2 separate regions of the Homo sapiens genome follow, and region 2 is linked to region 1. Evidence: fine-mapped expression QTL. A gene starts in region 1. The other region holds a variant in brackets. All regions are shown on one strand. Distances are between the middles of the regions.

Region 1 (4,178 bases):
AGAAACAAGTTCCACCTGCCTCCACCCACATGGAGTTGCTAGTTTTGGACACAGACAACAAACAAGTGGACATGTATGGTACCGAGAAGAGAAAACAGGGCGCACGGGCTCTGCAACTGCGGGTCAGGGAAGGCCTGGGGGGCCTCAGTCGAGGTGGAACCATCGTTGGCAGCCCCCAAATGGGTAGAGTGCACCAGCAAACAGGAGCCCAGGGCCCTAGAGTAGGGGGCAGATCCGTGGGGACCACCTCACAGGGCTGTGGGACTCAGCAAGGAGGAGCATTTTATCCCAGGGACCATGAAAAGCCATGGAGGGTTTTAGGTAGGAGCAAAAGATGGTGCTCTTAGGTTTTTAAAAGATCAATCTAGTATGCCTGAGAAAAGTATGAAGCATTCCCGTCTGCCACTGTGGTGCTTATGATTATTCTGGGATACTGATACAGAATAAAGTAGCTAGTACTGATCACGTGCTATAAAGTTACAAATTGCCACTTTTACGGGTTAAAAACAGTGGAATATCGTCAACTTCACAAGATTCAACTTCCATGTACAAGCCGTTGTGGCAGGACCTCATCAGACCTCCTAGCTCTGAAGGGTGACCATTAAACTTCCCATTTCAGAGATGAGGAAAAGGAAGTTCTGAGTCACTGGGCAACCTGCCCAAGACCACACAGAACAAGTCCGGTGGTCAGACAGCTTGCCATGGCTCCTCACGCTCAGCACCTCATACTTGTTGGTCCTAACCCACCCACGTCTCTCTCTGACCAGACTCTGCATCCCTGTAGGAGAGGCCCTGTCTGCTCCATTCACTCCCAGATCCTCAGGCCGAGGACAGAGCGGGACCTCCTTAGAAAATCAAATCAAATTCACTCAACAGGGCACCACCCCAAAGTGTAAAACAGGGTTAACAGGAGCAGCCGGACCACAAGCTGCTGTGCACATTTACGGAGCTCAGCCTAGAGCAGGGCAGAACAGCCACATGGCAGCTCTGGGGGAGGCTGGCTTGGGAGTCTGACTTGTGCCATCCCAGACACAGAGCTACCTGTCAGGCCACGTGTGTTGCCCAGATTCCAGGAGCACAACTCATTCGACCACCACGTCGCTGCAGGGCCACTGGGAGACGCGGCTTCTGCCTCCGACCCTGGAGGACAGCCACCATCTGCATGGGGACTCAGTCTCCCTAAGCGTCTCAAGAAGAACTAATTCTCGATGAAGGAACTGGCCGGTGGTCTGGCCTAGTATCGAGACACCTACACCGTCTTTGGCATAAACACAGGGCCTGTTACTGCCCCTGAGGTCGTCACCAGGGGGAGAGAATGGCCAGTCCTGCCTCCCACAACGCCCAAGACATAAACACGCAACGTGGCACCACGGCCAGGCCGCAGTTCCAATCCCGGCTTCCCACGAGGCGGCTGTGCCTGGCTGGGTGGGCACCTTTTCCTTTGGGCTCTATCCCAGAGATAGGATCAGCTCTTGAGTCTGCCCGCCTGTCGTAACTTCTGCGCACAGAAGTCATGCACTGAGTCCCACTGACTGAGCACCTCGCAGCCGCCGCACCTTCACCTACATTATCTCTTTCCATCTTCACCAGGGCCCTCCAAGGTGAAAGCAAGTCCACACAGGCTCATCCACCACTCCAAAATCAAAAAAAGCTTCAAAAGCGAAAGTTTCTTCCTTCCTGGTTTGACCTGACACGAAGCTATCTGTTGTCTTATCCTAGACAGTCCTAGGTGGGTTTGATCAAACATCACAGTCCAAAATCCCACAGATCCTCAAATTGGAAAAATTCTGGATTCCAAAATATAGCTGGTCCCAAACATTTCAGATAAAGGGTCCCGGGCTTGTTTCCTGGACGAGGGAGGAGGCTCCAGAAGTAACTTCGTGCCCGGGAGAGGCTGGTCCAACTCTTCTGAGATCAGCCCCGACGCTCTCTAGGCCCCGGCAGACCCACCCACCCTGCGCCCAGTTCGCGCCAGGCGGGTCCGCGTCGGGAGTTCAAATCCCGCCCGGGGTCTGACCCAGCCCCGCCGGGGGGCTCGCGGGCGGCGGAGGCGCGGTGGGTCCACCGGGATCCCGATGGGGAGCGCGGGGCGCCTGGCGGCCCCAGCACTCGGCAAAGTTGGCAAAGGCGCGGGAGGGGAGGCCTGCGCGCCGCGGGGCCCGGGCCGGGGCCGGGAACCGGAGCCGGACCCTGGAACGGAGCCGCGCGCCCACCGGACCCCCGACACCAGCCCCGCCCCGCGTCCCTCCCCTCCCCCACCCCGGCCCCCGCCCGCCCCGCGCCGCCGCGCATGCGCACTGCAGCCCGCGATGTGGCAGCCGGGGGAGTTGGGGGGTGGGGGCCGGCCGGGGGCGGCCGCCGATGGAGCCCCGCGCCCCTCCGGCCCCGGACGGGCCAGGCGCCCCGGCCGGCCTCAGAGCTCCAGAGCGGGGCTCTCCGTCCCTGGGGCCCACGACGAGGCCGAGCCACGGCGGCGGGGGGCGCGGACGCGCGGGGGCGGGGGGCCGGCTCCCCCGGCCCGCTCACTCACCTCCGCCATGGCCGTGTGTGCGCGGGAGGCGGTGGCCGCGCCGGGATCCCCGGATGAGGGGCCGCGCACTCATTGGCTGTGGAGCCTGGAGGGCGGGGCAGGGGGCGGAGCCTGGAGGGGGCGGAGAGCGGGCCGGGCGCGTAGTAGGTGCGCGGGCGCGGGCGCGGGCGCGCAGCCGAGCGTGGCCGGCGGCTTCTGGCGAGCTTGCGGTGTCTTTCCGGCCGTCTCTGCTGGACCCTGATCTTGGCCTTGGCCTTGGCGGAGGAGACTGCATTCCATAAAAATACGAATTCCTGATAATCACACCTGCGTGGGGACCACGTGGTCCTGTGTGACCTCTTCATTCCCTCGGCTGCTCGCTGTTAATACCCCGCGTGGCAGACTAGGAAACTGAGGCCCAGGGCGACGGGCCACCCAGAGTGTCAGTGATAGAGCCAGAATTGGTGTCCGGGCTGCGTGGTTCTGGAATTTTCTGCACTTTCGCACCCGTGATGAGCAAACTAGCGCGCGGAGGAACCAATCGGGGAGCTTGCGAACGCGCACCAGTCGGAGAGGTTTTAGAAACGGTGGCCCCGCGCCGGAGAGCCCAAGGCGGGAGGCAGGGAGGTGGGCTTGACCCCAGGGCCATTTGGTTCTGCAGTCCGTCGTTTCGCAGATTGAACATTTCTGGAACACGTGCACGTTCTGATCCTGAGGGTTTGAAGGAGACAGCCCTAACGCCTGTCTTCAGGGCGTTTAGAGTGGAGGATGGGAAGGCAAGGACTCGCCACACCTTAAATTTGAGACGGATAAGTGCCGTGAATCTTCGGGGCGCACGATGCAGAGAGAGGATAGGAAGCAGGGGTGGGGCGTGAAGAGGCAGGGGCCAGGTGGGAGCTGTGGGGCCTGGACCAGAGTGCAGAGAGACTTGAGAAGGTGGACACCACAAGACTCGCTGATGGAGGGAAGCTGGAGAGAGTGAAGGATGGCCTCCAGATGTCTGGCTTGCGCAAATGAGTGGAGGGCGGTTCCTACTGAGACCAGGAAGAAGAGAACTGGAGACCAGGAAGAAGGGAATTGGGGACCAGGAGGAAGGGAATTGGGGACCAGGAAGAAGAGAATGAGTCTCATTCCTGTTTCCCAGTGATCAGCCAATGAATAGTGAGAACTTGACATGCATCAGCCTTGATTCCTGATGCAAAATCATTACTCAGTCCTCTGAGAATTCACCAACCAAGAGATAGAAGAACCACTCTGGAGGGGTCTACCCTCACTCCTTTTTTGGTTTACATCATTGAGATTGAGGGTTCTGGCCCTCGTGTTGAAGAGTCCTCACTGATTTGTGCAAGAGTTGGTTCCTTCCTTTATTATTCATTTGTTATTATTCATTCAGTCATTCAGTGAACTAAACACATATCTTATGCAGTCCTCAACTGGGTGCTGGGTAGCCAGAGGTCCTGTGAAGCAGGGAGAAGCATGAACAGATAAGAGAGTGAGGTGCTGTGCTGTAACAGGTGGAGGGGCCCGAAGACAAGGGCTTGAGTCCACCTGGCAAAACGAGGGAAGACTCTTAGGAGAGGGCTTGGCAAGAATCATCACATAGATGTCAAATGAGGACTTGGGTGAAGAGAAGGGTATTGTGGCTTGGAACGGTGACTCACACCTCTAA
Region 2 (4,178 bases), 42 kb before region 1:
AGGCTGTGGGACACCCAGGGCCGTGACACCAGTGACTGCAGAGACTGTGGGACAACACCCAGGGCCGTGACACCAGTGACTGGAGACTGTGGGACAACACCCAGGGCCGTGACACCAGTGACTGGAGGGACTGTGGGACACCCATGGCCGTGACACCAGTGACTGGAGGGACTGTGGGTCACCCATGGCCGTGACACCAGTGACTGGAGGGACTGTGGGACACCCATGGCCGTGACACCAGTGACTGGAGAGACTGTGGGACACCCATGGCCGTGACACCAGTGACTGGAGGGACTGTGGGTCACCCAGGGCCGTGACACCAGTGACTGGAGAGACTGTGGGACACCCAGGGCCGTGACACCAGTGACTGGAGGGACTGTGGGACACCCATGGCCGTGACACCAGTGACTGGAGGGACTGTGGGTCACCCAGGGCCGTGACACCAGTGACTGGAGAGACTGTGGGACACCCATGGCCGTGACACCAGTGACTGGAGGGACTGTGGGTCACCCATGGCCGTGACACCAGTGACTGGAGGGACTGTGGGACACCCAGGGCCGTGACACCAGTGACTGGAGAGACTGTGGGTCACCCATGGCCGTGACACCAGTGACTGGAGAGACTGTGGGTCACCCATGGCCGTGACACCAGTGACAGTGACTGTGGGACACCCATGGCCGTGACACCAGTGACTGGAGAGACTGTGGGACACCCATGGCCGTGACACCAGTGACTGGAGAGACTGTGGGTCACCCAGGGCCGTGACACCAGTGACTGGAGAGACTGTGGGTCACCCAGGGCCGTGACACCAGTGACTGCAGAGACTGTGGGACACCCATGGCCGTGACACCAGTGACTGGAGACTGTGGGACACCCATGGCCGTGACACCAGTGACTGGAGAGACTGTGGGTCACCCAGGGCCGTGACACCAGTGACTGGAGACTGTGGGACACCCAGGGCCGTGACACCAGTGACTGGAGAGACTGTGGGACACCCATGGCCGTGACACCAGTGACTGGAGAGACTGTGGGACACCCATGGCCGTGACACCAGTGACTGGAGAGACTGTGGGACACCCATGGCCGTGACACCAGTGACTGGAGACTGTGGGACACCCAGGGCCGTGACACCAGTGACTGCAGAGACTGTGGGACAACACCCAGGGCCGTGACACCAGTGACTGGAGGGACTGTGGGACACCCAGGGCCGTGACACCAGTGACTGGAGAGACTGTGGGACAGCACCCAGGACAGGGCACATGTACCAAAGACCCAAAAGACAGAGTGGGACATCAGAAAAATTTGAGAAATACTCCTTCAGAAATGGAACTCTAAGAAAGCAAAAGAAAACAGAAATATCTGCAGAAATAACAGTCAAGACTTCAAAATCTGTTAAAATGCACCCACCCTCAGGTCGAAGTAGCTCAGTTTAGAAAGCTAGACCCAGGTGCATCACAAACGGCCAAAGTCCAAAAATAAAAGAAAATCATGTATATAGTCAGAAGTAAGAGATTTCACAGTAAGGAAAACAGAATGAGAAAATTCCTCATCAGAACAGTAGAAAACAGCATGAATAGAACCACCTTAACATGCGCAGAGAAAAACACAGTCCACTTAGAACCGTATATCCTGTAAAAATGCACTTCAAAAGAGGAGGAGGAATTAGGGCCTTTTGATCCACGTAAGAGCTAAGCCTAGGCAGAATGTCACTGCAGAGGAACTACAAGGCAATATATATTAAATACGGCACTTCAGACTCAAAGAAAATTATCCCTCTTGGCAACACGGAGTCTGAATGAAGAACTTAAGAGCGCCAGAAAGGTACGAAAATGTACACATCTTCAAAGGCTATGGAAAACAAGATCCCACTACACACCTATTCGAATGGCCAAACACAAAATACTGACACCACCAAACACTGGGGAGGACATGGGCCTCAGGAGCGCTTACTCATTGCTGGTGGGAGTGAAATGGCAGCTTCTCATTAAACACGGTCTCATCACACGGTCCGGCAATCAGGTTTCTTTATTCATCCAAATGGGCTGAAAAGTTGTGTCAAAACAAAAACCTGCACATGGGCGTTTACAGCAGCTTTATGAGTAACTGCTGAAGCTTGGAAGCTGCTAAGATGTCTTTATGTGTAACTGCCAAAGCTTGGAAGCTGCTAAGATGTCTTTACGCGTAACTGCCGAAGCTTGGAAGCTAAGATGTCCTTCAATAGGTACGTAGATAAACAAGCTGCAGCACACGCCCAGGATGGAGTATCATCCAGCGCGAAAAAGAAATGAGCCATCAAGCCACGAAAAGACATGGCGAAGCCTTCAGTGAATATGAAAGAAGCCAATCTCAAAGGCTACATACTGTACGTGTACACCAAAGCACATCCTCATCAGACACCTCAATACACCAAAGCACATCCTC[G/A]TCAATACACCAAAGCACATCCTCATCAGACTCAATACACCAAAGCACATCCTCATCAGACTCAATACACCAAAGCACATCCTCATCAGACTCCTCAATACACCAAAGCACATCCTCATCAGACTCCTCAATACACCAAAGCACATCCTCATCAGACACCTCAATACACCAAAGTACATCCTCATCAGACACCTCAGTACACCAAAGCACATCCTCATCAGACACCTCAATACACCACAGCACATCCTCATCAGACTCAATACACCAAAGCACACCCTCATCAGACACCTCAATACACCAAAGCACATTCTCATCAGACACCTCAATACACCAAAGCACATCCTCATCAGACTCAATACACCAAAGCACATCCTCATCAGACTCCTCAATACACCAAAGCACATCCTCATCAGACTCAATACACCAAAGCACATCCTCATCAGACTCCTCAATACACCAAAGCACATCCTCATCAGACTCCTCAATACACCAAAGCACATCCTCATCAGACTCCTCAATACACCAAAGCACATTCTCATCAGACACCTCAATACACCAAAGCACATCCTCATCAGACTCAATACACCAAAGCACATCCTCATCAGACTCCTCAATACACCAAAGCACATCCTCATCAGACACCTCAATACACCAAAGTACATCCTCATCAGACACCTCAATACACCACAGCACATCCTCTTCAGACTCAATACACCAAAGCACATCCTCATCAGACTCAATACACCAAAGCACATCCTCATCAGACACCTCAATACACCAAAGCACATCCTCATCAGACTCAATACACCAAAGCACATCCTCATCAGACTCCTCAATACACCAAAGCACACCCTCATCAGACACCTCAATACACCAAAGCACATTCTCATCAGACACCTCAATACACCAAAGCACATCCTCATCAGACTCAATACACCAAAGCACATTCTCATCAGACTCAATACACCAAAGCACATTCTCATCAGACTCAATACACCAAAGCACATCCTCATCAGACACCTCAATACACCAAAGCACATCCTCATCAATACACCAAAGCACATCCTCATCAGACTCCTCAATACACCAAAGCACATTCTCATCAGACACCTCAATACACCAAAGCACATCCTCATCAGACTCAATACACCAAAGCACATTCTCATCAGACTCAATACACCAAAGCACATTCTCATCAGACACCTCAATACACCAAAGCACATCCTCATCAGACTCAATACACCAAAGCACATCCTCATCAGACTCCTCAATACACCAAAGCACATCCTCATCAGACTCAATACACCAAAGCACATTCTCATCAGACACCTCAATACACCAAAGCACATCCTCATCAGACTCAATACACCAAAGCACATTCTCATCAGACTCAATACACCAAAGCACATTCTCATCAGACACCTCAATACACCAAAGCACATCCTCATCGGACTCAATACACCAAAGCACATCCTCATCAGACTCCTCAATACACCAAAGCACATCCTCATCAGACACCTCAATACACCAAAGCACACCCTCATCAGACACCTCAATACACCAAAGCACATTCTCATCAGTCACCTCAATACACCAAAGCACATCCTCATCAGACTCAATACACCAAAGCACATTCTCATCAGACACCTCAATACACCAAAGCACATCCTCATCAGACTCAATACACCAAAGCACATCCTCATCAGACTCAATACACCAAAGCACATCCTCATCAGACACCTCAATACACCAAAGCA

Which allele goes with the higher level. Positions count from the first base shown, and alleles are read on the strand shown. Sizes are in standard deviations (SD) of each study's normalised expression.
As copies of G replace A in region 2, the expression in CD4 T cells of the gene that starts at base 2,553 in region 1 goes down (large effect, 0.93 SD a copy in Kasela 2017).

The links. PIP is the estimated chance that this variant, and not a neighbour inherited with it, causes the effect.
Region 2: its variant is fine-mapped to the expression of MIER2 in CD4 T cells (Kasela 2017, PIP 0.95).

What each region holds. Positions count from the first base shown.
Region 1 is chr19:342,244-346,421 of GRCh38, forward strand. MIER2 (MIER family member 2) reads right to left here and starts at 2,553. Exons shown (of 14, transcript NM_017550.3): 1 at 2,531-2,553. The coding sequence starts at 2,539. RefSeq lists an enhancer at 658-1,609 and silencers at 1,918-2,027, 2,328-2,377, 2,448-2,897.
Region 2 is chr19:300,075-304,252 of GRCh38, forward strand. It overlaps LOC124904605, which reads right to left. Exons shown (of 2, transcript XM_047439789.1): 1 at 3,319-4,178; 2 at 2,008-3,252. The coding sequence ends at 2,347. Among named protein-coding and RNA genes, the nearest start is that of PLPP2, 11 kb to the left of the region's middle. The variant G/A (reference allele first, on the strand shown) is at 2,422.